2 separate regions of the Homo sapiens genome follow, and region 2 is linked to region 1. Evidence: fine-mapped expression QTL. Tissue or cell type: whole blood. Region 1 holds a variant in brackets; the other region holds the start of a gene. All regions are shown on one strand. Distances are between the middles of the regions.

The links. PIP is the estimated chance that this variant, and not a neighbour inherited with it, causes the effect.
Region 2: DHFR2 starts here. The variant in region 1 is fine-mapped to the expression of DHFR2 in whole blood (INTERVAL, PIP above 0.99). The same link has a PIP of 0.9 or more in aorta and sigmoid colon.

The regions. Positions count from the first base shown.
Region 1 is chr3:93,733,498-93,749,355 of GRCh38, reverse strand. No RefSeq gene overlaps it. Among named protein-coding and RNA genes, the nearest start is that of PROS1, 230 kb to the left of the region's middle. The variant C/T (reference allele first, on the strand shown) is at 7,827.
Region 2 is chr3:94,058,074-94,073,931 of GRCh38, reverse strand. It overlaps DHFR2 (dihydrofolate reductase 2), which reads left to right and starts at 11,016. Exons shown (of 2, transcript NM_176815.5): 1 at 11,016-11,186; 2 at 12,326-15,858. The coding sequence starts at 12,421. The coding sequence ends at 12,984. It overlaps NSUN3 (NOP2/Sun RNA methyltransferase 3), which reads right to left and starts at 10,871. Exons shown (of 6, transcript NM_022072.5): 1 at 10,794-10,871; 2 at 9,386-9,495. The coding sequence starts at 10,805. RefSeq lists an enhancer at 10,738-10,977.

The DNA of each region.
Region 1 (15,858 bases):
TTCACAGAATTGGAAAAGCTACTTTTAAGTTCATATGGAATAAAAAAATAGCCTGCATCGCCAAGTCAATCCTAATCCAAAAGAACAAAGCTGGAGGCATCACACTACCTGACTTCAAACAATACTACTAGGCTACAGTAACCAAAACAGCATGGTACTGGTAGCAAAACAGAGATATAGATCAATGGAACAGAACAGAGCCCTCAGAAATAATGCCGCATATCTACAACTATCTGATCTTTCACAAACCTGAGAAAAACAAGCAATGGGGAAAGGATTCCCTATTTAATAAATGGTGCTGGGAAAACTGGCTAGCCATATGTAGAAAGCTGAAACTGGATCCCTTCCTTACACCTTATACAAAAATCAATTCAAGATGGATTAAAGATTTAAACGTTAGACCTAAAACCATAAAAACCCTGGAAGAAAACCTAGGCATTACCATTCAGGACATAGGCATGGGCAAGGACTTCATGTCTAAAACACCAAAAGCAATGGCAACAAAAGACAAAATGGACAAATGGGATCTAATTAAACTAAAGAGCTTCTGCACAGCAAAAGAAACTACCATCAGAGTGAACAGGCAACCTACAAAATGGGAGAAAATTTTCGCAACCTACTCATCTGACAAAGGGCTAATATCCAGAATCTACAATGAACTCAAACAAATTTACAAGAAAAAAACAAACAACCCCATCAAAAAGTGGGCGAAGGACATGAACAGACACTTCTCAAAAGAAGACATTTATGCAGCCAAAAAACACATGAAAAAATGCTCATCATCACTGGCCATTAGAGAAATGCAAATCAAAACCACTATGAGATACCATCTCACACCAGTTAGAATGGCAATCATTATAAAGTCAGGAAACAACAGGTGCTGGAGAGGATGTGGAGAAATAGGAACACTTTTACACTGTTGGTGGGACTGTAAACTAGTTCAACTATTGTGGAAGTCAGTGTGGCGATTCCTCAGGGATCTAGAACTAGAAATACCATTTGACCCAGCCATCCCATTACTGGGTATATACCCAAAGGACTATAAATCATGCTGCTATAAAGAGACCTGAACATGTATGTTTATTGTGGCATTATTCACAATAGCAAAGACTTGGAACCAACCCAAATGTCCAACAATGATAGACTGGATTAAGAAAATGTGGCACATATACACCATGGAATACTATGCAGCCATAAAAAATGATGAGTTCATGTCCTTTGTAGGGTCATGGATGAAATTGGAAATCATCATTCTCAGTAAACTATCGCAAGAACAAAAAACCAAACACCGCATATTCTCACTCATAGGTGGGAATTGAACAATGAGATCACATGGACACAGGAAAGGGAATATCGCACTCTGGGGACTGTTGTTGGGTGGGGGTATGGGGGAGGGATATCATCGGGAGATATACCTAATGCGAGATGACGAGTTAGTGGGTGCAGCGCACCAGCATGGCACATGTATACATATGTAACTAACCTGCACTACGTGCACATGTACCCTAAATCTTAAAGTATAATAATAATAAAAAGAAAGAAACTAGACAGAAGTATTCTCTGAAACCAGTTTGTGATGTGTGCATTCAACTCACAGTTTTCAACCTTCCTTTTGATAGAGCAGTTTTGAAACACTATTTTTGAAGGATCTGCAAATGGATATTTGGAGCGCTTTGAGGCCTATGGTAGAAAAGAAAACATCTTCATATAAAACTTGACAGAAGCATTCTCAGAAACTTCTTTGTGATGTGTGCACTCAACTCACAAACGTGAATCTTTCTTTTGATAGAGCAGTTTTGAAACACTCTTTTTGTAGAATCTGCAAGGGGGTATTTGGACCACTTTGAGGCTTTCATAGGAAACGGGAATATCCTCCCTTAAAAACTAGACAGAAGCATTTTCAGAAACTTCTTTGTGATGTGTGCATTCAACTCACAGAGTTGCACCTTTCTTTTGATAGAGCAGTTTTGAAACACTCTTTTTGTAGAATCTGCAAGTGGATATTTTGCAGCTGTGAGGCATTCTGAGGAAATGGGAGTATCTTCACCTAAAAACTAGACAGAAGCATTCTCAGAAATTTCTTTGGATGTATGCATTCAACTCACAGAGTTGAACCTTCCTTTTGATAGAGCAGTTTTGAAACACTATTTTTGTAGAATCTGCAATTGCAACTTGGGAGGGCTTTGAAGCCTGTGGTGGAAGAGGAAATATCTTCACATAAAATCTAGACAGAAGCATTCTCAGAAACTTCTTTGTGATGTGTGCATTCATGTCACATAATTGAACCTTCCTTTTGATAGAGCAGTTTTGAAACAGACCTTTTGTAGAATCTGCAACTGGATATTTGGAGTGCTCTGAGGCCTACGGTGGGAACAGGAATATATTCACACAAAAACTAGACAGAAGCAATCTCAGAAACTTCTTTGTGATGTGTGCATTCAACCCACGGAGTTGAACATTCCTTTTGATGGAGCAGTTTTGAAACACTCATTTGTAAGAAAAATCAGCAAGTGGATATTTAGATATCTTTGCGACCTTCTGTGGAAACGGGAATATCTTCACCTAAAAACTAGACAGAAAGATTCTCAGAAACTTCTTTGTGATGCGTGCTTTAAACTCTCAGAGTTGAACCTCTCTTTTGATGGAGCAGTTTTGAAACACAGCTTTTGTGGAATCTGCAAGTGGATATTTGGAGTGCTTTGAGGCCTATGGTGGAAAAGGAAATATCTTCATATAAAAACCAGACAGGAGCATTCTCAGAAACTACTTTGCGATGTGTGCATTCAACTCACAGAGCTGAACCTTCCTTTTGATAGGGCAGTTTTGAAACACTCTTTTTGTAAGATCTGCAAAGGGATATTTTGCCAGATCTGAGGCCTTCTGTGAAAACGGGAATAACTTCAAATGAAAACTGGACAGAAACATTCTCAGAAACTTCTTTGTGATGTATGCATTCAACTTACAGAGGCGAAACTTTCTTTTGATAGAGCAGTTTTGAAACACACTTTTTGTAGAATCTGCAAGTGAACATTTTGAGGGCTTTGAGCCCTGTGGTGAAATAGGAAATATCTTCACATGGAGACTAGACAGAAGAATTCTGAGAAGCCACTTTGTGATGTGTGCATTCAACTCACAAAGTTGAACATTTCTTTTGATAGAGCACTTTTGAAACACTCTTTTTGAAGAACGTGCAAGTGGACATTTGAACCGCTTTAAGGTCTGTGGTGGAAAAGGAAACATCTTCATATAGAGACTAGACAGAATTATTCTCACAAAACACATTGTGATGTGTGCATTCAACTCACAGAGTTGAACATTCCTTTTGATAGAGCAGTTTTGAAACACTCTTTTTGTAGTATCTGCAAGTGGATATTTGGAGCGATTTGAGGCCTATGGTAGAAAAGCAAATATCTTCATATAAAAGTAGAGAGAAGCATTCTCAGAAACTACTTTGTGATGTGTGCCTTCAACTCACAGAGTTGAACCTTCTTTTTGATAGGGCAGTTTTGAAACACTCTTTTTGTAGAATCTTCAAGTAGATATTTGGACCACTTTGAGGCCTTCATTGGAAACGGGAATATCTTCAAATAAAAACTAGACAGAAGCATCTCAGAAACTTTTTTGTGATCTATGCATTCAACTCACAGAGTTGAACATTCCTTTTGATAGAGCAGTAGTGAAACACTCTTTTTGTAGAATGTGCAAGTGGACATTTGTTGGGCTTTGAGGCCCATTGTGGAAAAGGAAATATGTTCACATAGAAACTAGACAGAAACATTCTGAGAGACTCCTTTTTGATGTGTGCATTCAACTCATGGAGTTCAACCTTCCTTTTGATAGAGCAGTTGTGAAACACTCTTTTTGTAGAATCTGCAAGAGAATATTTGGACCGCTTTGAAGCATTCGTTGGAAACGGGAATATCTTCAAATAAGAACTAGACAGAAGCATTCGCAGAAACTTCTTTGTGATGTGTGTATTCACCTCACAGAGTTGAACCTTCCTTTTGATAGAGCACTTTTGAATCTCTCTTTTTGTAGAATCTGCAAGTGGACATTTGGAGGGCTTTGAGGTCTGTGGAGGAAGGGGGAATATCCTCACTTAAACACTAGACAGTAACATTTTCAGAAACTTCTTTGTGATGTGTGCATTCAACTCACAGAGTTGAGCCTTCCTTTTGATAGAGCAGTTTTCAAACACTCTTTTTGAAGAATCGGCAAGTGGAAATTTCGAATGCTTTGAGTCCTATGTTAGAAAAGGAAATATCTTCACATAGAAACTAGACAGAAGTATTCTCTGAAACCATTTAGTGATGTGTGCATTCAACTCACAGTTTTCAATTTTCCTTTTGATAGAGCAGTTTTGAAAAACTCTTTTTGAAGAATCTGCAAGTGGATATTTGGAGCGCTTTGAGGCCAATGGTAGAAAAGCAAATATGTTCATATAAAACTTGACAGAAGCATTCTCAGAAACTTATTTGTGATGTGTGCATTCAACTCACAGAGGTGAATCTTTCTTTTGATAGAGCAGTTTTGAAACACTCTTTTTGTAGAATTTGCAATAGGATATTTGGACCACTTTGAGGCCTTTGTTGGAAACAAGAATATCCTCACCTAAAAAGTAGACAGAAGCATTTTCAGAAACTCCTTCGTGATGTGTGCATTCAACTCACAGAGTTGAACCTTTCTTTTGATAGAGCAGTATTGAAACACTCTTTTTGTAGAATCTGCAAGTGGAGATTTGGAGCTCTTTGAGGCCTCTGGTAGAAAAGGAAATGTCTCATATGAAAACTGGATAAAAGCATTCTCAGAAACTTCTTTGTGATTTGTGCATTCAACTCACAGATTTGAAGCTTCTTTGTGATAGAGCAGTTTTGAAACACTCTTCTAGCAGAATCTGCAAGCGGCTATTTGGACTGCTTTTGGGCCTTCGTTGGAAACTGGAATATTTTCGAAGAAAAACTACACAGAAGTATTCTCAGAGACTTGTTTGTGATGTGTGCATTCAACACACAGAGCTGAACCATCCTTTTGATAGAGCAGTTTTGAAACACTCTTTTTATAGAATCTGCAATTAGATATTTGGAGCACTTTGAGGCCTATGATAGAAAAGCAAATATCTTCACAGAAAAACTAGACAAAAGCATTCTCAGAAAGTACTTTGTGATGTGTGCATTCAACTAGCTGAGATGAATCTTTCTTTTGATAGAGCAGTTTTGAAACACTTTTTTTGGACAATCTGCAAGTGGATATTTCGACTGCCTTGAGGCTTTCATTGGAAACGGGAATATTCTCACATAAAAACTAGACAGAAGCATTTTCAGAAACTTCTTTGTGATGTGTGCATTCAACTCACAGAGTTGAACATTACTTTTGATAGAGCAGTTGTGGAACACTCTTTTTGTAGAATCTGCAAGTGGACATTTGGAGCTATTTGAGGCCTATGGTAGAAAAGGAAATATCTTCAAATAAAAACTAGACATAAGCTTTCTCAGAAACTACTTTGTGATGTGTGTATTCAACTCACAGAGTTGAACCTTCCTTTTGATAAATCAGTTTTGAAACACTCTTTTTGTAGAATCTGCAATTGAACATTTGGAGGGCTTTGAGGCCTGTTGTGGAAAAGGAAATATCTTCACATTGAAACTAGACAGAATTATTCTCAGAAACAACTTTGTGATTCGTGCATTCCACTCACAGAATTGAAACTTCCTTTTGATAGAGCAGTTTTGAAACACTTTTTTTGAAGAATCTGCAAGTGGACATTTGGAGCATTTTGAGGCCTATGGTAGAAAAGGAAATATCTTCATATGAAAACTAGAGAAAAGCATTCTCAGATACTTCTTTGTGATGTGTGCATTCATCTCACTGTGTTGAACCTTCTTTATGATAGAGAAGTTTTTAAACACTCTTTTTGTAGAATCTGCTAGTGGATATTTGGACCACAATGAACCCTTCGTAGGAAATGGGAATATCTCCAAATAACAACTAGACAGAAGCATTCTCGAAACTTCTTTGTGATCTGTGCATTCAACCCACACATTTGAAACTTCTTTTTGATAAAGTAGTTTTGAAACACTCTTTTTGTAGAATCTGCAAGTGGATATTTGGACAGATTTGAGGCCTTCATTGGAAACGGGAATATCTTCACCTAAAAACTTGACAGAAGAATTCTCAGAAATTTCTTTTTGATGTGTGCATTCAACTCATAGATGTGAACATTCCTTTTGATAGAGTACTTTTGAAACCCTCTTTTTGTAGAATCTGCAAGTGGATATTTGCAGTACTTTGAGGCCTATGGTAGAAAAGCAAATATCTTCATATAAAAACTAGAGAGAAGCATTCTCAGAAACTTCTTTGTGATGTGTGTATTCAACTCACAGAGTCGAAATTTTCTTTTGATAGAGCAGTTTTGAAACACTCTGTTTGTAGAATCTGCTAGTGTAAATGTGGAGCACTTTAAGGCCCGTTGTGGAAAAGGAAATATCTTCACATGGAAACTAGACAGAGCCATTCTCAGAAAGTTCTTTGTGATGTGTGCATTCAACTCACAGAGTTGAAAAATCTTTTTGATAGGGCAGTTTTGAAACACTCTTTTTGTTGAATCTGCAAGTGTATATTTGGAGTGCTTTGAGGCCTATGGTAGAAAAGCAAATATCTTCACATAAAAACTAGACAGAAGCATTCTCAGAAAGTACTTTGTGATGTGTGCATTCAACTCACATAGGGGAAAATTTCTTTTGATAGGGCACTTTTGAAACACTCTTTTTGGAACATCTGCAAGTGTATATTTGGACCACCATGAGGCCTTCGTTGGAAACCGTTATATTCTCACATAAAAACTAGACAAAAGTATTTTCAGAAACATATCTGTGATGTGTGCATTAAACTCACAGAGCTGAACACTCGTTTTGATACAGCAGTTTTGAAACACTATTTTTGTAGAATCGGCAAGTGGATATTTGGAGCGCTTTGAGGCCTCTGTTAGAAAAGGAAATATCTTCATGTGAAAACTAGACAGAAGCATTCTCAGAAACTTCTTTGTGACGTGTGCATTCAACCCACAGAGTTGAACCTTCCTTTTGATAGAGCAGATTTGAAACACTCTTTTTGTAGAATTTGAAAGTGTGTATTTAGAGTGCTTTGAGGCCTATGGTAGAAAAGGAAATATCTTCACCTAAAAAGTAGACAAAGTATTCTCAGAAACTAGTTTGTGATGTTTGCATTCAACTCACAGAGTTTAACATTCCTCTTGATAGAGCCGTTTTGAAACATTCTTTTTGTAGATTCTGCAAGTGGATATATGGACCTCTTTGAGGCCTTCGTTGGAAACGGGATTTCTTCATATAAAACTAGACAGAAGTATTCTCAGAAACTTCTTTGTGATGTGTGCATTCAACTCACAGAGTTGAACCTTCCTTTGGATATAGCAGTTTTGAAACACTCTTTTTGTAGAATCTGCAAGTGGATATTTCGAGGCTTTGAGGCCTATGGTAGAAAAGCAAATATCTCCATAAAAAAACTAGACAGAAGCATTCTCAGGAACATTTTTTGATGTTTGCATTCAACTCGCAGAATCGAACCATTGTTTTGATAGAGTACTTTTAAAACACTCTTTTTCTAGAATGTGCAAGTGGACATTTGGAGTGCTTTAAGGCCTTGCTTGGAAAAGGAAATATCTTCACATTGAAAGTAGACAGAAGCATTCTCAGAAACTTCTTTTTGTTGTGTGCATTCAATACACAGATTTGAACATTCCTTTTGCTACACAAGTTTTGAAACACTCTTTTTGTAGAATCTGCAAGTGGATATTTGGATCACTTTGGGGC[C/T]TATGGTAGAAAAGCAAATATCTTCACATAAAAACTAGACACAAGCATTCTCAGAAATTACTTTGTGAAGTGTGCATTCACCTCATAGAGGTGAAACTTTCTTTTGATAGAGCAGTTTTGAAACACTCTTTTTGGAGAATCTGCAAGTGGGTATTTGCACCGCTTTGAGGCCTTCATTGGTAATGGGAATGTCTTCAAATAAATAGACAGAAGCATTCTCGGAAACTTCTTTTTGACATGTGCATTCAACTCACAGAGTTGAACCTTCCTTTTGATAGAGCAGTATTGAAACACTCTTTTTGTAGAATGTGGATGTGTACATTGGGAGAGCTTTGAGGACTGTGGGGGAAAGGGAAATATTTTCACATAGAAGCTAGACATATGCATTATCAGAAACTTCTTGATGATGTGTGCATTCAACTCACACAGTTGAAACTTCCTTTTGCTAGAGCAGTTTTGAAACCCACTTTTTGTAGAATCTTCAAGTGGATATTTGGACAGCATAGAGGCCTTCGTTGAAACGGGATCATCTTCAGCTAAAAACTAGACAGAAGGATTCTCAGACATTTCTTTGTGATGTGTACATTCAACTCATGGAGTTGAACATTCCTTTTGATAGAGAACTTTTGAAACCCTCTTTGTGTAGAATCTGCAAGTGTATATTTGAAGCACTTTGAGGCCTACGGTAGAAAAGTATCTTCATATAAAAAGTAGACAGAAAATTTCTCAGAAACTTCTTTGTGATGTGTGCATTCAACTCACAGGGTTGAACCGTCCTTTTGATAACGCAGTTTTGTAACACTCTTCTCATAGAATCTGCAATTGAATATTTGGACTGCTTTGAGGCCTTCGTTGGGGAGTGGAATGTTGTCAAATAAAAAATTGACAGAAGCATTCTCAGAAACTTCTTTGTGATGTGTGCATTCAACTCACAGAGTTGAACCTTCCTTTTAGTAGAGCAGTTTTGAAACACTCTTTTTGTGGAATCTGCAAGTGGGTATTTGGAGTGCTTTGAGGCCTACGGTAGAAAATCAAATATCTTCATATAAAACCTAGACAGAAGCATTCTCAGAAAGTAACTTGTGATGTGTGCATTCAATTCACAGAGGTAAACTTTTCTTTTGATAGAGCAGTTTTGAAAAACTCTTTTTGGAGAATCTGCAAGTGGATATTTGGACCCCTTTGAGGCATTCTTTGGAAACGGGAATATTCTCATATAAAAAGTAGACAGAAACATTTTCAGAAACTTCTTTGTGATGTGTGCGTTCACCTCACAGAGTTGGACATTACTTTTGATTGAGCAGTTTTGAAACACTCTTTTTGTAAGTGGATATTTACATGGCTTTGAGGTCTTCGATGAAAATGGGAATGTCTTCAAATAAGTAGACAGAAGCATTCTCAGAAACTTCATTGCGATGTGTGCATTCAACTGAAAGAGTTGAATATTATTTTGATAGAACAGTATTGAAACACTCTTTTTGTAGAATGTGCAAGTGGACATTTGGAGGGCTTTGAAGCCTGTGGTGGAAAGGGAAATATTTTCACATAGAAGCTAGACATAAGCATTATCAGAAACTTCTTTGTGATGTGTGCATTCAACTCACAGAGTTGAAACTTCCTTTTGATAGAGCAATTTTGAAACACTGCTTTTGTAGAATCTGCAGGTGGATATTTGGACTGCTTTGAGGCCTTCGTGAGAAACGGGAATATCTTCAAATAAAAACTAGACAGAAGCATTCTCAGAAACTTCTTTGTGATGTGTGCATTCAACTCACAGAGCTGAACCTTCCTTTTGATAGAGCAGTTTTGAAACACTCTTTTTGTAGAATGTTCAAGTGGATATTTGGAGTGCTTTGAGGCCTATGGTAGAAAATCAAATATCTTCACATAAAAACTAGACAGAAGCATTCTCAGAAAGTAATTTGTGATGTGTGCATTCAACTCACAGAGATGAACCTTTCTTTTGACAGAGCAGGTTTTAAACACTCTTTTTGGAGAATCTGCAAGTGGATATTTGGACCCCTTTAAGGCCTTCGTTGGAAACGGGATTTCTTCATATAAAACTAGACAGAAGCATTTTTGGAAACTTCTTTGTGATGTGTGCATTCAAATCACAGAGTTGAACATTACTTTTGATAGAGCAGTTTTGAAACACTCTTTTTGTAGAATCTGCAAGTTGACATTTGGAGGGCTTTGAGGCCTGTGATGGAAAAGGAAATATCTTCACATGGAGACTAGACAGAAGCATTCTTAGAAACCTCTTTGTTATGTGAGCATTCAACTCACAGGGTTGAACCTTCCTTTTGATAGAGCAGTTTTGAAACACCCTTTTTGTAGAATCTGCAAGTGACATTTAGAGGACTTTGAGGCCCTTGGTGGAAAAGGAAATATCTTCACATAGAAATTAGACAGAAGCATTCTCAGAAACTTCTTTGGATGAGTGCATTCATCTCACAGAGTTGAACCTTCCTTTTGATAGAGCAGTTTTGAAACTCTCTTTTTGTATAATCTGCAAGTGGATATTTTGACCTCTTTGAGTCCTTCATTGGAAAAGAGATTATCTTCAAATAAAAACTAGACAGAAGCATTCTCAGAATCTCCTTTGTAATGTGTGCATTGAACTCACAGAGTTGAACATTCCTTTTTATAGAGCAGTTTTGAAGCACTCTTTTTGAAGAATCTGCAAGTGGACATTTGGAGCACTTTAAGCCCTATGGTAGAAAAGAAAATATCTTCATAGGAAAAGTAGACAAAAGCATTCTCAGAAACTTCTTTGTGATGTGTGCATTCAACTCACAGAATTGAACATTCTTTTTGATAGAGAAGTTTTGAAACACTCTTTTTGTAGGATCTGCAATTGTATATTTGGACTGCTTTGAGGTATTCGTTGGAAATGGGAATATCATCAAATAAAAACTAGACAGAACCATTCTCAGAAACTTCTTTGTGATATGTGCATTCAATTCACAGATTTGAAAATTTCTTCTGATAGAATAGTTTTGAAACACTCTTTTTGTAGAATCTGGAAGAGGACATTTGAAGGATTTTGTGGCCTGTGGTGGAAAAGGAAATATCTTCACATAGAAACTAGACAGAGCCATTCTCAGAAACCACTTTGTGATGTGAGCATTCAACTCACAGAGTTGTACCTTCCTTTTGATAGAGCGGTTTTGAAACACGCTTTTTGTAAAATCTGCAAGTGGATATTTGGACACCTTTGTGGTCTTCGTTGGAAATGGGAATATATTCAATTATGTACACAGGAGCATTCTCAGAAACTTCTTTGTGATGTGTGCATTCAACTCACAGATTTGAACCTTCCTGTTGATAGAGCGGTTTTGAAACACGCTTTTTGTAAAATCTGCAAGTGGATATTTGGTCAGCTTTGAGGCCTTCGTTGGAAAAGGGAATATCTTCAAATAAATAACTAGACAGAAGCATTCTCAGAAACTTCTTTGTGATCTGTGCATTCAACTCACAGAGTTGAACCTTCCTTTTTATAGAGCAGTTTTGAAACACTCTTTTTGTAGAGTCTGCAAGTCGATATTTGGACAGATTTGAGGCCTTCGTTGGAAACGGGAATATCTTCACCTAAAAACCAGACAGAAGCATTTTCAGAAATTTCTTTGTGTTGTGTGCATTCAACTCCCAGAGTTGAAACTTCTTTTTGATAGAGCAGTATCGATACACTCTTTTTGTAGAATCTGCAAGTGGATATAGGGAGCGCTTTGAGGTCTATGGTAGAAAATCAAATATCATCACATAAAAAGTAGACAGAAGCGTTCTCAGAAAGTTCTTTTGGTGTCTGCATTCAACTCACAGAGGTGAACATTTATTTTGTTACAGCAGTTTTGAAACACTAATTTTGGAGAATCTGCAGAATATTTGGACCACTTTGAGGCCTTCGTGGGAAAGGGGAATATTCTCACATAAAAACTAGACAGAAGCATTTTCAGAAACTTCTTTGTGATGTGTGCATTCAACTCACTGAGTTGAACATTACTTTTGATAGAGCTGTTTTGAAACACTCTTTTAGTAGAATCTCCAAGTGGATATTTGGAGCTCTTTGAGGCCTATGGTAGAAAACAAAATATCTTCAAATAAAACCTAGTCAGAAGCATTCTCAGAAACTTTTTTGTGATGTGTGCATTCAACTCACAGAGTTGAATCTTCCTTTTGAATGAACAGTTTTGAAAACCTCTTTTTGTAGAATCTGCAAGTGGACATTTGGAGGGCTTTGAGGCCTGTGATGGAAAAGGAAATATCTTCACATAGGGACTGGACAGAAGCATTCTCAGAAACCTGTTTGTGATGTGTGCACTCAACGCACAGAGTTGAACCTTCCTTTTGATAGATCAGTTTTGAAACAAACTTTTTGAAGAATCAGAAAATGAACATTTGGAGCACTTTGAGGCCCCTGTTAGAAAAGGAAATATCTTCACATAGAAACTAGACAGAAGTATTCTCAGAAACCTCTTTGTGATGTGTGCATTCAACTCACAGAGATGAACCTTCCTTTTGGTAGAGCAGTTTTGAAACACTCTTTTTGAAGAATCTGCAAGTTGACATTTTGAGCGCTGTGAGGCCTCTGATAGAGAAGGAAATATCTTCATAAGAAAATTAGACAAAAGCATTCTCAGAAACTTCTTTGTGGTGTATGCTTTCAACTCACAGAGTTGAACTTTCTTTTTGATAGAGAAGTTTTGAAACACTCTTTTTGTAGAATCTGCAATAGGATATTTGGACTGTTTTGAGTTCTTCGTTGGAAACGGGAATATCTTCGAATAAAAACTAGACAGAAGAATTCTCAGAAACTTCTTTGTAATGTGTGCATTCAACTCACAGATTTGAAAATTCCTTTTGATAGAACAGTTTTGAAACACTCTTTTTGTAGAATCTGCAAAGGGACATTTGGAGGGTTTTGAGGCCTATGGTGGAAAAGAAAATGTCTTCACATGGAAACTAGACAGAAACATTCTCAGAAACCTCTTTGTGATGTGTGCTTTCAACTCACAGGGTTGAACCTTCCTTTTGATAGAACAGTTTTGAAACACTCTTCTTGTAGAATCTGCAAGTATATATTTGGACCGCTTTCAAGCATTCGTTGGAAAGGGGAATATGTTCAAATAACTAGACAGAAGCATTTTCAGAAACTTCTTTGTGATGTGTGCATTCAACTCACAGAGGTGAATATTTCTGTTGATAGAGCAGTTTTGAAACAATCTTTTTGGAGAATACACAAGTGGATATTTGGACCGCTTTGTGGTCTTCATTGGAAACGGGAATATTCTCACATAAAAACTAGACAGAAGCATTTTCAGAAACTTCCTTGTGATGTGTGCATTCAACTCACAAATTTGAATGTTACTTATGATGGAGCAGTTTTGAAATACTCTTTTTGTAGAATCTCTAAGTGGACATTTGGAGCACTTTGAGGCCTAAGGTAGAAAAGTAAATATCTTCAAATAAAAACTAGACAGAAGGATTCTCAAAAACTTCTTTGTGATGTGTGCATTCAACTCACAGCGTTGAACTTGCCTTTTGACAGAGAAGTATTGAAACATCCTTTTTGTAGAATCTGCAAGTGGACATTTGGAAGGCTTTGGTGCCTGTGATGGAAACGGAAATATCTTCACATTGAAAGTAGACAGAAACATTCTCAGAAAATTCTTTGTGATGTGTGCATTCATCTCACAGAGTTGAAACTTCCTTTTGATAGAGCAGTTTTGAAACACTCTTTTTTATAATCTGCAAGTGGATATTTTGACCGCTTTGAGGTCTTTGTTGGTAACGGCAATATCTTCAAATAAAAAATAGAAAGAAGCATTCTCAGAAAGTTCTTTGTGATCTGTGCATTCAACTCGCAGACTTGAACCTTTCTTTTCATAGAGCACTTTTGAAACACTCTTTTTGAAGAATCTGCAAGTGGATGTTTGGAGCGCTTTGCGGCCTAAGGTAGTAAAGCTTATATCTACATATAAAAAGTAGACAGAAGCATTCTCTGAAGCTTCTTTGTGATGTGTGCATTCATCTCACAGAGTTGAACCTTTCTTTTGATAGAAAGCCTTTGAAGCACTCTTTTTGTAGAATCTGCAAGTGGACATTTCGAGCGCTTCAAGGCCTGTGGTGGAAAAGGAAATATCTTCACATAGAAAATAGATGGAAGCATTCTCAGAAACTTCTTTGTGATGTGTCCATTCAACACACAGAGTTGAACCTTCCTTTTGATAGAGCATTTTTGAAACACTCTTTTTGTAGAATGAGCAAGTGGATATATGGAGCGCTTTGTGGCTTATGGTAGAAAAGCAAATATCTTAACTTAAAAATTAGACGGAAGCATTCTCAGAAAGTACTTTGTGATGTGTGCATTCAACTCACAGAGTTCAATCTTCTTTTAGATAGAGAAGTTTTGAAAAACTCTTTTTGTAGGATCTGCAAGTGGATGTTTGGACTACTGTGTGGCCTTCGTTGGAAACGGTAATATCTTCGAATAAAAACTAGACAGAAGCATTCTCAGGAACTTCTATGTGATGTGTGCATTCATCTCAGAGATTTGAAACTTCCTTTTGATAGAACAGTTTTGAAACACTCTTTTTGTAGAATCTGAAATTGGAAATTTGGAGTGTTTTGAGGCCTGCGGTGGAAAAGGAAATATCTTCACATAGAAACTTGACAGAGCCATTCTCAGAAACATCTTTGTGATGTGTGCATTCAACTCACAGTGTTGAAACTTCTTTTTGATGGAGCAGTTTTGAAACACTCCTTTTGTAGAATCTGCAAGTGCATATTTGGACCGCTTTGAGGCGTTAATTTGAAATGGGAATATCTTCAAATAACTAGACCTGAGCATTCTCAGAAACATCTTTGTGATGTGTGCATTCAATTCACAGAGTTGAACATTCCTTTTGATAGAGCGGTTTTGAAACACTCTTTTTGTAGAATCTGCAAGTGGATATTTGGTCCGCTTTGAGGCCTTCGTTGGAAACAGGAATATCTTCAAATAACTAGACAGAAGCATTCTCAGAAACTTCCTTGTGATCTGTGCATTCAACTCACAGAGTTGAACGGTCTTTTTGATAGATCAGTTTTGAAACCCTCTATTTGTAAAATCTGCAAATGGATATTTGGACAGATTTGACGCCTTCGTTGGAATCGTGAATATCTTCACCTAAAAACTAGACAGGAGCATTCTCAGAAATTTCTTTGCGTTGTGTGCGTTCATCTCACAGAATTGAGCCTTCCTTTTGATAGATCAGTTTTGAAACACTTTTTTTTTATATTCTGCAAGTGGATATTTGGACCGCTTTGAGGCCTTCATTGGAAATGGGAATATCTTCAAATAAAAACTAGACAGAATCGTTCTCAGAAACTTCTTTGTGATCTATGCATTCATCTCATGGAGTTGAACTTTCCTTTAGATAGAGCACTTTTGAAACACTCTTTTTGAAGAATCTGCTAGTGGATATTTGGAGCGCTTTGAGGTCAATGGTAGAAAAGCAAATATCTTCATATAAAAAGTAGACAGAAACATTCTCTGAAACTTATTTGTGATGTGTGAATTAAACTCACTGAGTTGAACCTTTCTTTTGATAGACAGCGTTTGAAACACCCTTTTTGTAGAATCTGCAAGTCGACATTTCGAGAGCTTTAAGACCTGTGGTGGAAAAGGAAATATCTTCACATGGAAACTAGACAGAGCCATTCTCAGAAACCACTTTGTGATGTGTACATTCAACTCACAGAGTTGAACATTACTTTAGATTGGGCACTTTTGAAACACTCTTTTTGTAGAATCTGCAAGTGGATATTTAGAGCGCTTTGAGGCCTATGGTAGAAAAGCAAATATCTTCATATAAAAACTAGACAGAAGCATTCTCAGAAACTTCTTTGTGATGTGTGCTTTCATCACACAGAGTTGAACTTTCCTTTTGTTAGAGCAGTTTTGAAACACTCTTTTTGTAGAATCTGCAAGTGGATATTTGGACAGCTTAGACGCCTTCGTTGGAAATGGGAACACCTTCACCTAAAAACT
Region 2 (15,858 bases), 320 kb before region 1:
TAAAACCATAAAAATCCTAGAAGAAAACCTAGGCAATACCATTCAGGACATAGGCATGGGCAAAGACTTCATGTCTAAAACACCAAAAGCAACGGCAGCAAAAGCCAAAATTGACAAATGGGATCTAATTAAACGAAAGAGCTTCTGCACAGTAAAAGAAACTACCATCAGAGTGAACAGGCAACCTACAGAATGGGAGAAAATTTTTGCAATCTATCCAACTGACAAAGGGCTAATATCCAGAATCTACAAAGAATTTAAACAAATTTACGAGAAAAAAACAACCTCATCAAAAAGTGAGCAAAGGATATGAACAGACACTTCTCAAAAGAAGACATTTATGCAGCCAACAAACATATGAAAAAATGCTCATCATCACTGGTCATTAGAGAAATACAAATCAAAACCACAATGAAATACCATCTCACACCAGTTAGAATCATGATCATTAAAAAGTCAGGAAACAACAGATGCTGGAGAGGATGTGGAGAAACAGGAACACTTTTACACTGTTGGTGGGAGTGTAAATTAGTTCAACCATTGTGGAAGACAGTGTGGCGATTGGTCAAGGATCTAGAACTAGAAATACCATTTGACCCAGCAATCCCATTACTGGGTATATACCCAAAGGATTATAAATCCTTCTACTATAAGGACACATGCACACATATGTTTATTGCAGCACTATTCACAAGAGCAAAGACTTGTTACAAACCCAAATGTCCATCAATGATAGACTGGATAAAGAAAATGTGTCACATATACCCCATGAAATACTATGCAGCCATATAAAAGGATGAGTTCACGTCCTTCGCGGGGACATGGATGAAGCTGGAAACCATCATTCTCAGCAAACTATCACAGAACAGAAAATTAAACACTGCATGTTCTCACTCATCAGTGGGAGGTGAACAATGAGAACACATGGACACAGGGAGGGGAACATCACACATCAGGGCCTGTCGGGTGGTGAGGGGCTGGGGGACAGATAGCATTAGGAGAAATACCTAATGTAGGTGATGGGTTGATGGGTGCAGCAAACCACCATGGCATGGGTATACCTATGTAAGAAAACTGCACATTCTGCACATGTACCTCAGAACTTAAAGTATAATAATAAAAAAAAAAGAGAAGAACTTATTGCAGACTGAGGCAGAACTCTTCAGAAATTACTCTATCTCATTCTTTAGTGACTAGACAAAATAAGGCCTAAATAGAACAAACGAAATTTTTGATCTTTCATGATCTACACCCAACCCTACTGAACTATACAGATTTCTTCTAACAAGTTTCTTTAAAATTTACTGATCTCCACATGCCCGGCCCCCAACCTCCCTGAATAACCTTTCCTCTCTCACCTATCTGTTCTCAACTTAGGGAGTTTTCTCTCTCCAACGAAGTCTTTCCACTTACCACCCGGTTCACATCCTCCACCATACTCTGATATCATTATTAATAAATGTTACTGACTGGATGTGTACAATGTTCATTTTGCATGTTTATATCATAGAACCATCACAACAACCTTGAGAGAGGCAGCTCTTACTCCTATTTTAGAGGTTAACTGAGGCTTTTAGAGATTTTGGCAACTTACCTGAGGTCACATTGCTAGTACGCAGAAGTATCTGATTCAAAATCAGACTGACTTTAAAGTCTAACAGAAGTGATTCCCAACGTGTGAGACCCTGGTACTACAGCACAGAGCTACAAAAGGGGGCAAGAAAGAGAATTTTACCCCAACCCTCACTTAGTGCAAGTGGCCATGACCTCCCTGAAACCCTCTTCTGTCTAACAATGAAATCAGCTTGCCACATCCTGCCTATAGAAGCAGCTGCAACAGACCAACTCTTGAAGGGACTGCTAAGGCTGCTCAGGCTGGTGCTTCCTAGCCCTGAGAAAGCAAAGCTGTGTATTAATATGATTCTTACAGTTCCCCTTGCACACACCTGCCACTGACCTCCATTCTCCTCCCCACAACACACACACATACAACCCCTCCTGTGCCTGCACTGGGTGGGTTGCTAACCTGGGGCTGGAGGGAAAGTGGCTTCCGAATCCAAAGCTTTTATGGATGGGCAAGTAGCTTAGCAGGCAGTAGAGGGAATGTATGTTAGATGACTCTAGAAAACAGCGGCCAGGTGCCACACTCCAGGCCTTTTCCCAAGATTCACAGTTAGTCTGAAGCGGCTCCATTTACTGGTCTTCCAGGTGAGAAGAAGTGCAAGTACCTCAGTAGCCAGCAGAACTGGAGACATACAAGGTCAGTGACCTGCAAATTTGCTAGTGCACCACTGATATCATTTTGAAAAAAAACACATTTTAAGTTGACATTAAAATCTCACCATATGTTTAAAGGATGCAATTTCCAGCATACTGTAAAAATTGACATTTTAAAATACAAATTATACTGCCTTTAGTATGTGCCCAGTGGAAACTAAATATCATAATGATTTTGATACCCATCATCATCCATTTAAAAATTCATAGACTGACTCATCTTTAACAGGTGGAAATTTTATGCTGCTCGTTTTCCTCTTTTATTTACATTCTACTTCATATAACTTCATCTTAATATATTTTCATGCTTGAAATCTTTTTATCACCCTATCATGCTTCTCTAGCCCCCACATATACACATGTGTATGTACTAAATTTGTTTTTCCTGTGGTCTTAAATCTCTAAGTGTTAAAATGGTAACTTCTGGATTCAGGGATCAATAATATTATTAGTACAAAACCGATCAAAACAACTTATAAAAGTAAAAATTGGTAAGAAATGGATACTTAATGAAATGAGCTTTTGTTTCCATATATCCATAAATGAATATTACTTCTTACTATAATAAAATCAGTCAGGATTCAACATCATTTTTATGCCTATTTTGTGTTTTTTATAAAAGCTGAGAAAAACCTTCAGTTAAATAAGTGGATGAGAATTAAATATATTTTGTTATAGCAATGTTTCTTACTTTGAATTCTTTTGGAGTTATATCCCCAAATCACTTAGCAACCTATCATCAAAAATGTCTTAAATGAATTGATAGCTGACATCTCAATCAAGGCTCCTTTACTTTTGTTGAAAGCAAAACTTGGAAACCACCTGACTTGTCAGAGAATCTGTTAGTCATTTGCTTTCTCACACTGACACTCCAATAGTTTCTGGCATATGGAGGTTTTGAATACCTGGAGGAACATAGCATAGAAGCCAGAATGGTGCAAGTGTGCCTTTCTTTTTGTGAAAAGGGTGAAGGGAAATTGGAGAAAGGCAGGTTGGGAAAGGAGAATATGTGCCCCCTTATGTACAGAGGGGCAGAGTAATTTTCTGAAAGAGAATACATGAAAGTTGAGGATGTGAAAACTGACTGCGGTCACTTGCCTGAGCCTACATACCCCCTTGAAAAGTCTTTCTATTTCTCACTCATTGTTGCTCCTCCCTCCAACATGCTAAGTCTGTTTTGTCTTCTTTTTTTTAGAGACAAGGTCTCACTCTGTCACCCAGGCTGGCGTACAGCTGTGCGATCATGGCTCAGTGAAGCCTCGACCTCCTGGACTCAAGCGATCCTCCTACCTCAGTCTCCCAAGTAGTTGCGCCTACAGGCACGCACCACCACACCCAGCTAATTGCTTATTTTTTCTAGAGATGAGGTCTTGCTATATTGCCCATGCTGGTCTTGAACTCTTGTCCTCAAGCAATCTTCCCGCCCTCAAGCAAATCTCCTGCCTTGGCCTCCCAAAGTGCTGGAATTACAGGTGTGAGCCATCGTATATTATCTTCTTGTCAACATTCATTCATTCTCTAAAAATACACCGTCTGTCAACTATAGGCTAGGCACATCTATTTACTGATAATGATATAAAATAAGCTTAAATTCCTAAGAAACAAAAGAAAAATAAATTCCTAAGAAACAAAAGAAAAATTCCTAAGAAACAAAAGAAAAATATTAAAACTGACCAAAAAAAAATTAAGTAAAACTAGACAGATGGTACACAAGAATAACTGAATTTTGAGAAACAGTTAATGAAGCTAAACTAATATATCACACTGTGTGTCACCCTGCCTGCTTACCCATTTCCCTAACTCATTTATATGGGAGCCTTGACTTATTTTTCTCCTTGGCTAAGTGCCTGGGGCCTAAATCCTGGAGTAAATGAATAAAATTGGAGTTCTGATTCAAGGCTCTCTGAACTACTTACTATTTTAACAAAATTAAAGCATTAAAAAATTAAAAGCTAGTTAAGTTAAAATTTTGCAAAACTGTATAATGTATCATTTCGATAATGTTTATTATTTGATAGTATAATTTTCATTCAACTTTTCTGTGACTTTATTCTTTTTTCCTACTACTCTACTCTCCACCCTACCTTCCGTCCTAGTGACGAAGATGAAAAATATCATTTAATCTAGAAATTGTTAAACACAATTAATATAACCCTGTAGATTACAGAACCTATTTAAATTTCCATAGCTAAAAAAGAGAAATTCCTTGATTTAGTGCTATTATTATCCACTAGAGGGTGCTCATTCAACTCTTTTAAAAGTTAGAAATGAAAAACAAATCAATTTATGGAAATGCACCAAAGTATGTTTTTGAGTCATTTTATTTTTACTCCTCAGAGATGCTAACGAAGAGCTGATGGCTTCCTATTCTATTTTGGCAATGGATCTTCCTTGTATCTCACAGAAGGGCAATTTATGTCCAGATTTGTTATTCACTGTACCTCAGATAGGAAATCCTTTGCGTTTCTGGTGGAACATCAAAAGGCTAAAAATCCTGAACATAAGAGTCCTTCATACTACGGGATCTGAGCATACATTTGGAAGGATGCAACTCTGGACCCTTCACAGCAGCACAGATGGTATAGGAAAAGGCGTGGACTTTTAAGTCACAGGACTGAATTTGCCACAACTACAAGATACCTATCAATTGTTCTAACCTCTGACTTTAAAGTGTCTAAAAGTTACTTCTTCACAGAGATTTGCACAGATTAAGGCTGAAAATGTGTGTAAAGCCAACATATAGGACAATATAGAAATCTAGATACTGGTTCATTTCTCTCTTTCTTAACCACCTCAGTCTACATCCTTCACAGATTATGGTAATATTATCAGGTTGTGTGTGTGTATGTGTGTGTGTGTGTGTGTGTGTATTTTTTTTTCCTCTCTGTATGTGAACTCTCGGTCAGTGAGGAGAGTGTCCAAAAAAAAAAAGATGTTGCAGACAGTTCAGACTTATATGGTCTGTTTGTTTTGCTTTCTATAAAGTACATGTAAAATTTCCACAGTTAATAAATATTTCTAATTAATGCTTATATTAATCATACATTTATTAAGTATCCATTAATTATCCAATTAATCATACATGTATTTGAGGGCAGGATATATACAGTCCATTTTTGTATTCTCAGTGCTTAGCACAATGCCTAGTACACAAACACTGACAAAACTGGGAATAAGCAGAAGACTTGCCCAAGTCTCAAGGTATTGGTTCTTCAAAACCCTCCCTTGTCAGGAAAAAGATAAGCAAGTTAGTAAATTATGACGATAAAACCTTGAAAGAATCACAATAGCTCTATCAACAAAATGCAATGGATACACGAAGGGCAAAACTAATTTTGCCAAGGGACATACAGAAGGCTTGATGAAGTGGTTAATCATAGTAACAAAAATAATGCTAATGCATATGAAGTCCTTACTATACGTCAAACAACATTCCATTCACATTGTATATACACAAATTCATTTTATCTTCCCAAATGATTATATGAAATAGATACTATTTTTTCCCCATTTTACAGACGAGGACAATGGAGCACAGAGATATTAACTCACCTAGGTCATATGCTACAAGATGCAGAGGTGGGATTTGAACCCACACTACTGCACAGAGGGAGAAGGGAAAAAGGCATTCCTAGCAGAAGAACAGCATAGCCAGTCCCAAAGGCATGAAGGAGCCTGCCCAGAAAGATAAGATTTTTAGTCCAAACATAATACTGCAGACTTCTGGGGAGCAAAGGTTTGTACTCAAGGTGTGACACAATGGAATTTGGTAGCACCGAGAAACAGCATGACAGAGTGGGTACAACAAACTCTCAAGGCTCTTCAAAGTGTTAGATGTGTATACTTGGGCAAGTTAAAGTGTGAGATGTGTATACTTGGGCAAGTTACTTAACCTCTGTGTGCCTCAGCTTTCCTATATATAAATGGAAATAACTATTTCAGAGGGTTGTACATAGGATTGTTATTATTCATAAAGTGATTACAACATTGACTGGTACATAGTGCCATAAAAGTGGTTGCTAAAATAAGCAAACAGGTAAGTACTAAACATGGCTGTTGCAATATGCCAGATAAGAGATTGGGAAGGTCTAAGTGAATGGCAGCAGTAGAGAATTTTTTTAAAAAGATCCAAATTAAAAGGGGGCAGGGTAGTTGAGTCTCAAAGACAACTCTCACTTCTGACACCAATTACAAGTTCAGGGATTCCAAGGATGACTCTCAGGTTTGATTATTCACTGGGACACAACCGAACTCACTGAAAGCTGTTATAATCACAGTTATAGTCACAGTTTATTATAATGAAAGCATACAGATTAAAAACAATCACAGGAAGAGACTCATAGTGCAGAATTCACAACAATTCAAAGCATGAAGCTTCCAGCTGTCCTCTCCAACGGAATCATCAACGAGGTCAACTTTTGCTGGCAGTAATGTATGACAGTATGCACAAGAGTATTGCCAACCAGGGACACTCACCAAAGCCTTGGTATCCACTTTTTATTGGGGCTTGGTCACGTATATATGATTGACTGTCCATACAGCTTTTAGTCACAAGCCCTTCTGGATGTTGAGTTGACACCTGTGGTCCCCAGGCCTCAACATAAATCACATCGTTAGATTATCAGGTGTGACCTCAACACCCAGGTAAACAAAGACACACTTATCAGGAAGCACATTCCAAGGGCTTAGAGATCGCCTCCCAGGAGCTGAGGGCAGTTGCCAGACCTATTTTTATATAAGGTTCATTTTTTACTACAAAGGTAGTGAAGGTATAGAGAAGAAAGGAGGAAACCAGACTGATGGTGATACACTTAATTGAGATAAAATATGCAGGTAGCAAAGGCAACATAAGTTTGAAAGGGAAAAATAATAATACACTTTTGAGTTTGCCAAGTAACTGAAGTTGCTAAAAAACAGAAGTATGGGACTAAATCTTAGGAAGAACCTCACAGCTTGAGATGACAGCATACTGATAAAAGTCATGCCATGAATGGGCTTACCTGAGGAGAACATGGAGGCAACAAATAGAGCAAGAATTGAACCAGGGTAAACTCCAATTTTAAAGGGCTGCTCAGAGGATGACTAGACAAGAAAGGTTACTAAAAAAGAGCAAAACTAAATACTAAATCTTCCTCACTACTACAGGAAACTAAAAATATTGAATAAATTACTTTCTAAATAGGCCAAAAAAAGAGCACTTGACTTTCCCTGGAAGTAGACTCTACAAGTACATTATGTCTTGCAAACAAGCAGTTAAAACACAAAATATTTCATTCTGTTCTTATTTCCCCATACCATCTTCCATGCTCAGACTACTTCCTAAGCTGAGAAACCTTTATTTTGCCTATGGCAAATTTAGTGTGTGTTTATGCAAAACTTAAATTACCACAAAAACCCCACAATAGGGTAAATGAAGCAGAAGGCACAGCTAATTAAATGGATTTGAGGTTCATTGCTCATTTTGCTCAGGGTCAAATAATAGTATATGACTTTCTGAGTACACTAAGTAGAAAAATAAGTCATTATAGGATATGAGTAGCCAGACTGCTACAAAGTCTACAGAAAAAAAAAAAGCCTCTTGAAATCTTTTTTTTTTTTAAATCACATCCCAGATATGAGACAGTACAGAACAAGGATGAGCTGTGGGAGTTATTGAGTCAGACAACCCAGGCACAAGCCTCAGCTCTGCCACTTATTAGCTGAGTGAACTTGGGCAAATTACTTAAACTCTTAACGGGTTTGTTCTGAGGATCATGTAAGTCAGTATTGTCTGGCATATAGTAAACATGCAATAAGTGTTTGGTTATTTGGATACTCTATTTGAGTACCTTTGTATACTGAAAACCTCATAAATTTATTACATACTTTATTATTCAGTTCTTCATCTCTGTGACAGAAAATACCCATTTGAAAATCTACTTTTGAAATAAAACCCACGAGTATAAACGGTTTGCATATTACAGCATTTACCAATTTCTATAACAGCTTAATTGTCCTAAAATTATCTCAGAATCACCTCAGACTTTGTGATCTTTATTAGCCAAAACTTAATTTGTTTTAGAAAATGCTCAGAACTGCCCTTTGTAAAGGAGAAATGCTTAAGAGTTGATCCAAGAAAAAAATGGACAAGCCAACCATCTGAAAAATTAGTCTGGACCAAGTTCCAGATAATATCTGTAGCCATGCAACTTTTTTTCCTCATGCAACATGTAGTGGGCTTTTGCCCTAACTTCATGAACAGTGCACCTTCTTCCCTCAACCTAGGAGGCCTAGTTCTTTTTGTCAAAGTAACTCCTCTAAGTCACCAAGACCCAGCTTCCCTTCAGGCCTTTGCTGGCACCCTCAGGCTTTGTTAGATACTTGGATCACAGTATTTACAAATTAGTTTATATAGTTGTAACCACACCCATCTCCTCACTTCTCCCATTAACACTAACTAGACGGCATGTAAACTGGACATGCAGACTGTCTTGCTCTGTATTCCAGAGAGGGTTATATAGTGTATCAGGCACTCAATGTCAAGAACCCATACAGTAATCCATACATTAACATCATCTTACCAAACAGACAAATCACATTTCTCCCACTTCCATGCATTAAACATTCCTTATTTTTATATTTAAATAATTTTGTGTGTATATGCACGTGTTCAAAATATACCCAGCCATCGACATAGGAAAGAAATATGATTACCAAATAAAGTGTACCTTTGGCTGAGATAAAGCAGTGCTGGCTTTAAAGATTTGTTGTATTATCTTCTAAATTTCAGAAATCAGTCAAATATTCCAAATTTTATGTTTTTTTCTTTTACAGTATAATTAATTTTGTCAAACTAGTGGGCATTCCTATTTCAAGGATCAAAGTAATTGCTCAAAGCAAAGGCGTAACAATTTGTGCTTACCATCCCGACAAAGTTTTATTTCCCCTTTCCAACATGCTATGATTCATTCTATTTCTTCTTAGTTGTTCCTTTCTATAGCTTCAGTAGGAAAAGGCAACCAGATTTAGATTCCTTTGCCTTTTAACCTCACAGCATCCCTCCCACAAAAAGGAGGACTACATATTGTACTTTGTTCCATCATAAAGCATCGAGATGAATTATACTAACCTTACTGTATTCCAGGCATCTCCGAGTTCTTTGGAATACTGTTTTTCAAAATGATCCAACACAACTTTGCAAATCTGTTTTGCAAGCTTCCCCTCTGATTTTGCTTTCAGCTATGACGATAAGAAAAAGTTGCTGACACACAGTGATATTACAAATTTACTGAACGTCAACATTAGCAAGGTCTTTTTTTAAGACAAGAACACTTTTTTTGGATAATTACTAGTTCTTGAAATGGAAGCAATACCTTACATGTACCAAAACTGTACATTATCTAATTATGAAAAAGCAAGGTTTTTCCAAATAATTATTTTCCAAATGTGAAGCAAAGGTTAAAACAGAATCTACTGGGGCTGAAGAAACTGTCAAAAGGAACAAAATTAATTTTAAAAAGTCACTGTAGGGGCTAGGCAGGTGGCTCACACCTGTAATCCCAGCACTGTGGGAGGCAGAGGCGGGAGGATCACATGAGGTCTGGAGTTCAAGACCAGGTTGGCCAACACGGGAAACCCGTCTCTACTAAAAATACAAAAATTAGCCGAGAGTAGTGGTGGGCGCCTGTAACCCCACCTACTCAGGGGGCTGAGGTGGGAGAATCGCTTGAACTCAGGAGGTGGAGGTTGCAGTGAGCCGAGATCGCGCCACTGTACTCCAGCTGGCTCATGCTTTGCAGGGACGAGGCGAGAGGATCATTTCCCAGTTCAAGACCAGACTGGAAAACATATCAAGGACGTGTCTCTACAAAAAGTAAAAAAAAAAAAAAAATTAGCCAGGCGTAGTGGCCTGCTCCTGTAGTCCTAGCTACTAGGGAGGCTGAGGCTGGAGGATCGCTTGAACCCAGGAGTTCAAGGTTACAGTGAGCTATGATGGAGCAGCTGCATTCCAGATTGGGTGACAGAGCAAGAACTTGTATCTAAACAAAACTAAAAAGTCACCGGGGATGCTGACATCAAGAAAAATTGGTGAAAGGTATTTGAGAACTCTGTACTATCTTTGCAACGTTATTTTAAAGTGAAAAGTTAATTTAGGGAGAAAAGTCACTCCAATTTCATCGTGAACTTCCTTGCAATTGTTTCATTTATTCATCCAAGAAACGTGTATTCAATGCCTACTATGTAACAGACACTGTTCTAAGCTCCCGGGATACCGCTGTGACACAGAAAACAAATCTCAGCCCTCCAAGAGCTGGAGGGAGTGGGTACTAGAAGTCTGCGAGCTGGACGGAAGGGACTCAGCATTACAGCACTCAGCATTATTTCAGGGCTTGACAGTAAAGCCAAAGAAACGCTGATCTCGCGAGGGGACGAACAAAGGTGATGTTCCCCCATCCCAGCACCCTCCCTCGCCACCTCGGCCGCGTCCAGAAGCGTCTCATTCAGATAGAGGTACCCAGCCGGGCCCCAGGTCTCACCTGGGTCAGCATTGTCCCGCTGAGAGCTTTCAAACAACAGGTGTACGCGAATCAGTATCAAAAAGCCTCCAGGGAACTGAAAAAAACAGTCTGACTTCCGGGATTCGCGGGCATCCACTTTCATTCTCACGTTTCCTCTTCAATTTCTCGCGAGATACTGATTTGCTCGCGCTATAGAATTCTTGTCGAAGAGGCTTAGCTCCCGCGGGAGATTTCGTGCGCAGTTACTTCCGGTAGCTGGTAAAGGCTGATACTTCCCAGGACGCGGAGGTAACGGGCCAGGGCCAAAGCGACTTTCGCTACTTGGATTGGTCGGCGTAGCTTTGGGCGGCCGGACCTTAGAAAGTCACACATCTGCGCGCCTGTGCGGCCCCTGCTTCTGCGGATGCTGAGGTGGGAGGATCGCTTGGGCAGAAGTTTGAGGTTGCAGTGACCCGTGATCGCGCCACTGCACTGCAGCGTGGGCGACAGAGCGAGGCTTTGTCTCAAAAATAAATAAAAAGTCGCATATTGTGCTGAACAGTGTGTATATGCATGGGGCTCAATAAAGGAATGAGTTTTGGGGTTATGTTGTATGATGACTGATTTAAAATATTCTCAAAGCGAAGCTAGTTACTGACTTAATCTACCAAATCTAGTGACCCCTGTTAACCTAGACATTCAGTACCCAAGGATAAAAGGGTGGAATATAATGAAAAAGAAATTAAGTCATGCTTTTCCCCAGACCTGGCCCATGGGGATAATCTCTCCTTTTAATGGAGAGTGTTAAACTGAAGTAGGCATGTAAAGCGGTTACAACAGTGATTAGGAAACAGTAAATGCCCAAATGTTAGCTGCTATTATTTTCACTATTGTGATCATTGTGATTTTTGTCGCGTTGATACCAAATGCGTGAAGACCAAAAGGACCCTCCACTCTAGCCTCCCCAATTCACCTTTACAAGGGAGCAATGTTTAATGGTTCTCCAAGGAAGATGTTTATTACACCTATTTTGACACGAATAGAAGTTTATTTGCTCTTTTGGTGTCATGCTTCAGTAACTATCATTTGTAGCAGCAATCAGCAATTAGAAAAAACCGGTTTGATATGGTCCCTGATAGTTAATAATCATCATTTTGAGTTGTTCCTTGATGCTCATATCAATATACGTACATGCTATAGGTACAAGTCTTATATTCATGTAAAAACATGTCTTTCCTTCTAATCTGATTTGAAGCTTAATATATTTATTTATTTAAACAAGTTTCCAAGTCACCTAAAAAATGCATCTTATTAGAATTTAGATTTGGTACAAAAGACTATGATAATCAGGAATGAAATGATGCCATCTCTTGGATGCCGTCTGTTTAATGTTTGTGGAAAAGTCGGTCTAACCTTTCAGCCTCTGTATTTTTTATAATTTTATAAATTTATATTTTATAAATATTTTATAAATTTATACTTTATAAATATATTTTATATAATTTATTTTTCTATGTTCATTCCAGAATGTTGCAATTAATTAATACAGTGGTATTGTATTTGCAATGTAGGCACGTAAAAAAATTTGAAGAAGGGAATTTCGCGGCATTCTTGGCCTGGCTTCCTGGCGTAGCCAGCAAGTTCGGAGGTGTTAACCGCTGCTGTCATGTTTCTTTTGCTAAACTGCATCGTCGCTGTGTCCCAAAACATGGGCATCGGCAAGAACGGGGACCTGCCCAGGCCGCCGCTCAGGAATGAATTCAGGTATTTCCAGAGAATGACCACAACTTCTTCAGTAGAGGGTAAACAGAATCTGGTGATTATGGGTAGGAAGACCTGGTTCTCCATTCCTGAGAAGAATCGACCTTTAAAGGATAGAATTAATTTAGTTCTCAGCAGAGAACTCAAGGAACCTCCACAAGGAGCTCATTTTCTTGCCAGAAGTTTGGATGATGCCTTAAAACTTACTGAACGACCAGAATTAGCAAATAAAGTAGACATGATTTGGATAGTTGGTGGCAGTTCTGTTTATAAGGAAGCCATGAATCACCTAGGCCATCTTAAACTATTTGTGACAAGGATCATGCAGGACTTTGAAAGTGACACGTTTTTTTCAGAAATTGACTTGGAGAAATATAAACTTCTGCCTGAATACCCAGGTGTTCTCTCTGATGTCCAGGAGGGGAAACACATCAAGTACAAATTTGAAGTATGTGAGAAGGATGATTAATATGAAGGTGTTTTCTGGTTTAAGTTGTTCCCCCTCCCTCTGAGAAAAGTATGCATTTTTACATTAGAAAAGGGACTTTTGTTGACTTCAGATCTATGGATAATTATTTCTAAGCAACGTGTTTTTATTCCTCACTAATCTTGGCTATATCAGATACCATTTATGAAACATTCTTGCTATAACTGTCTCTCCAAGACCCCGACTGAGTCCCCAGCACCTGCTACAGTGAGCTGCCATTCCACACCCATCACATGTGGCACTCTTGCCACTCCTTGACATTGTCAGGCTTTTCTAATGTTGGTAGTATTTATTAAAGATGAAGATGCACATACCCTTCAGCTGAGCAGTTTCACTAGTAGGAAATACCAAAAGCTTCGTACATGTATATCCAGAGGTTTGTAGACAAATGTTGCAGCCTTTTTTGTAACAGTGAAAAACTGAAAACAACCTGGAAGTCCAGTGATGGGAAAATGAATATATTTCTGTCTTAGATTGGGGAACCCAAAGCAGATTCCAAGACTGAAATTTAAGTGAAAGCAGTTTATTTGCTAGGTCATACCAGAAGTCATCAATCGAAGTATGGAGAAATGGAACTGAGAAGGTAAAAACCAGTTCAAAATCAGTGAGGAGGTTCTCAATGGTAACGAGCTCCATACTGCTGAGATACAGGGAAACGGAGGGGAGAAAGCTAGAGTATTTAACCCCCACTCCTTGGTTGTCAGCTCCCTGTCCTGTGTGTGGGCAGAACGTACTCCACCTACTCAATAGCAAGTTCCAGGTGTTTGCTGAAAGAAGCTGCTGTAATGTACGGGAACGGTGAATGCCAAACACTTAAAGCAATTCCATGTTTAAGTATGTAAACTCTTCATACTTTTTTTTTTTTTTCTTTTTAAGACAGAATTTCACTCTTGTTGCCCAGGCGGAGTGCAATGGAACAACCTTGGCTCACGGCAACTTCAGCCTTCCCAGGTTCAAGCAATTCTCCTGCCTCAGGCTCCTGGGTGGCTGGGACTACAGGCGCGTGCCACCACGCCAGGCTAATTTTGTATTTTTGGTGGGGACATTCCATGTTGGTCAGGCTAGTCTCGAACTCCTGACCTCAGGTGATCCTCCTGCCTCGGCCTTCAGGGGTGCTGGGATTACAGGCATCAGCCACTGCACTTGGCAGATCTTCATTCTTTTAGTAAAAAGTATAAAGCCACACATGGTTTATTTGAAATATTTTATAATTTAAAAAAGTACAGAAGCAGGAAAACCAATTCTAGGTTCAAGTGAGGGATGATGGTAGTTTGAACCAAAGGATTGCATGTGGTAAGAAATTGTGATTTAAGATATATTTTAAAGTTGGAAGTAGCAGGATATTCTGATGGAGTTTGACTTTGGTTTTGGGCCCACTGAGTTTGAGATGCCTTTGAGAAATGAAAGAAGTAGAGAGAGAATTAAAAACTGGCCAGGAGTGGTGGCTCACGCCTGTGGTCCCAGCACTTTGGGGGGCTGAGGTGGGTGGATCACCTGAGACCAGCTTGGGCAACATGGTGGAGCCCTGTCTCTACAGAAGATACAAAAATTGGCTGGGCATTGTGGCACACACCTGTAGTCTCGTCTACTCACGGGGCTGAGATGGAGGATTCAATTGAGCCCATGAGTTCAAGGCTGCAGTGAGTCGTGATTTTGCCACTGCACTCCTGCCTGGGTGACAGAAGAGACCCTGTCTCAAAAAAGAATCTGAAAACAACGGAACCATGCCTTCAGAATTCTATAAAGTTATTTTCAACTGATAAATCTATATTCAGGCAAAGAATCAAGGGTGAAGGTAAAATAATACATTTTTAGACAAGCAAAGACTCAGGGGTTACATGTACCCTTTCTTGGGAAGCTATCGGAGAAAATACTCCAGCAAAATGAAGGCGTACACAAACCAGAGAATGACGTGGATCCAGCAAATAGTATCCAACACAGGCAATATTCCAGCTATGGAGCTAGCTTTAAAAAGAAACAGTAAAAATACTAATAGATTAGCTGGGTGGGATGGCCCATGCTTGTAGTCCCAGCTACTCAGGAGGCTAAGCAAAAGGATGGCTTGAGCCCAAGAGTTCAGAGCAGCCTGGCCACCATAGTGAGATCCCTTCTCTTAAAAATAATAGGTTATTGCCAGATTTGGGGCATTTGGAAAGAAGTGCATTGAAGATAAAGCAAAAGTAAAAAAAAAAAAAAACAAAAAAAAACAAGGGGGAAGGGTTGGTTAGGCAATAATTAATTCTAGGGCAGGAAGAAGTACAGGATAGGAAGTAAGAGCATCATACGCTGTTTTTCTCAACAATGGGCAATATGTACATAGTCATAATGATGTGGTGACTGACTGCTTAGCCCCTAAATCTGGTAACTACTTTGGGACAATATGGGGGGAAAAGTGAAGATAGTGATGGTGTAAGAGCTAAATCCTCATCTGTCATATCAAGAAATCACTATATAATGTATAACATAATCAAGAAATGACTAAGTAGTTATGTGAAGAAAAGAATGGAACATTGCTAGAAGAGTTAGAAGTCATTGCTCCAGAGAATTAGGAGGGATGGGGCAGGGGACTGTTAGGATGCATTATAAACTGAAGAGGCTTTTAAAGATTACATGTATTAATATATGTATTCACTTGAAAAACTAAAAAAATAGTAATTTTTTAAAACCCATGGAGGTAACTACCAGAAGGAAAAACTAAGAGAATGAAAAGTGCTTTCCTCTGGAAAGAACAAGTCGCAGGACTGTTTTCATTGTAAGACTTTTGGAGCCATTTGATTTTACTTAACCATTTTCATATATTTCTTTAATAAAAATAATTCTATCTTAATAAAAAGTTACACTCATTCATTAAAAAAA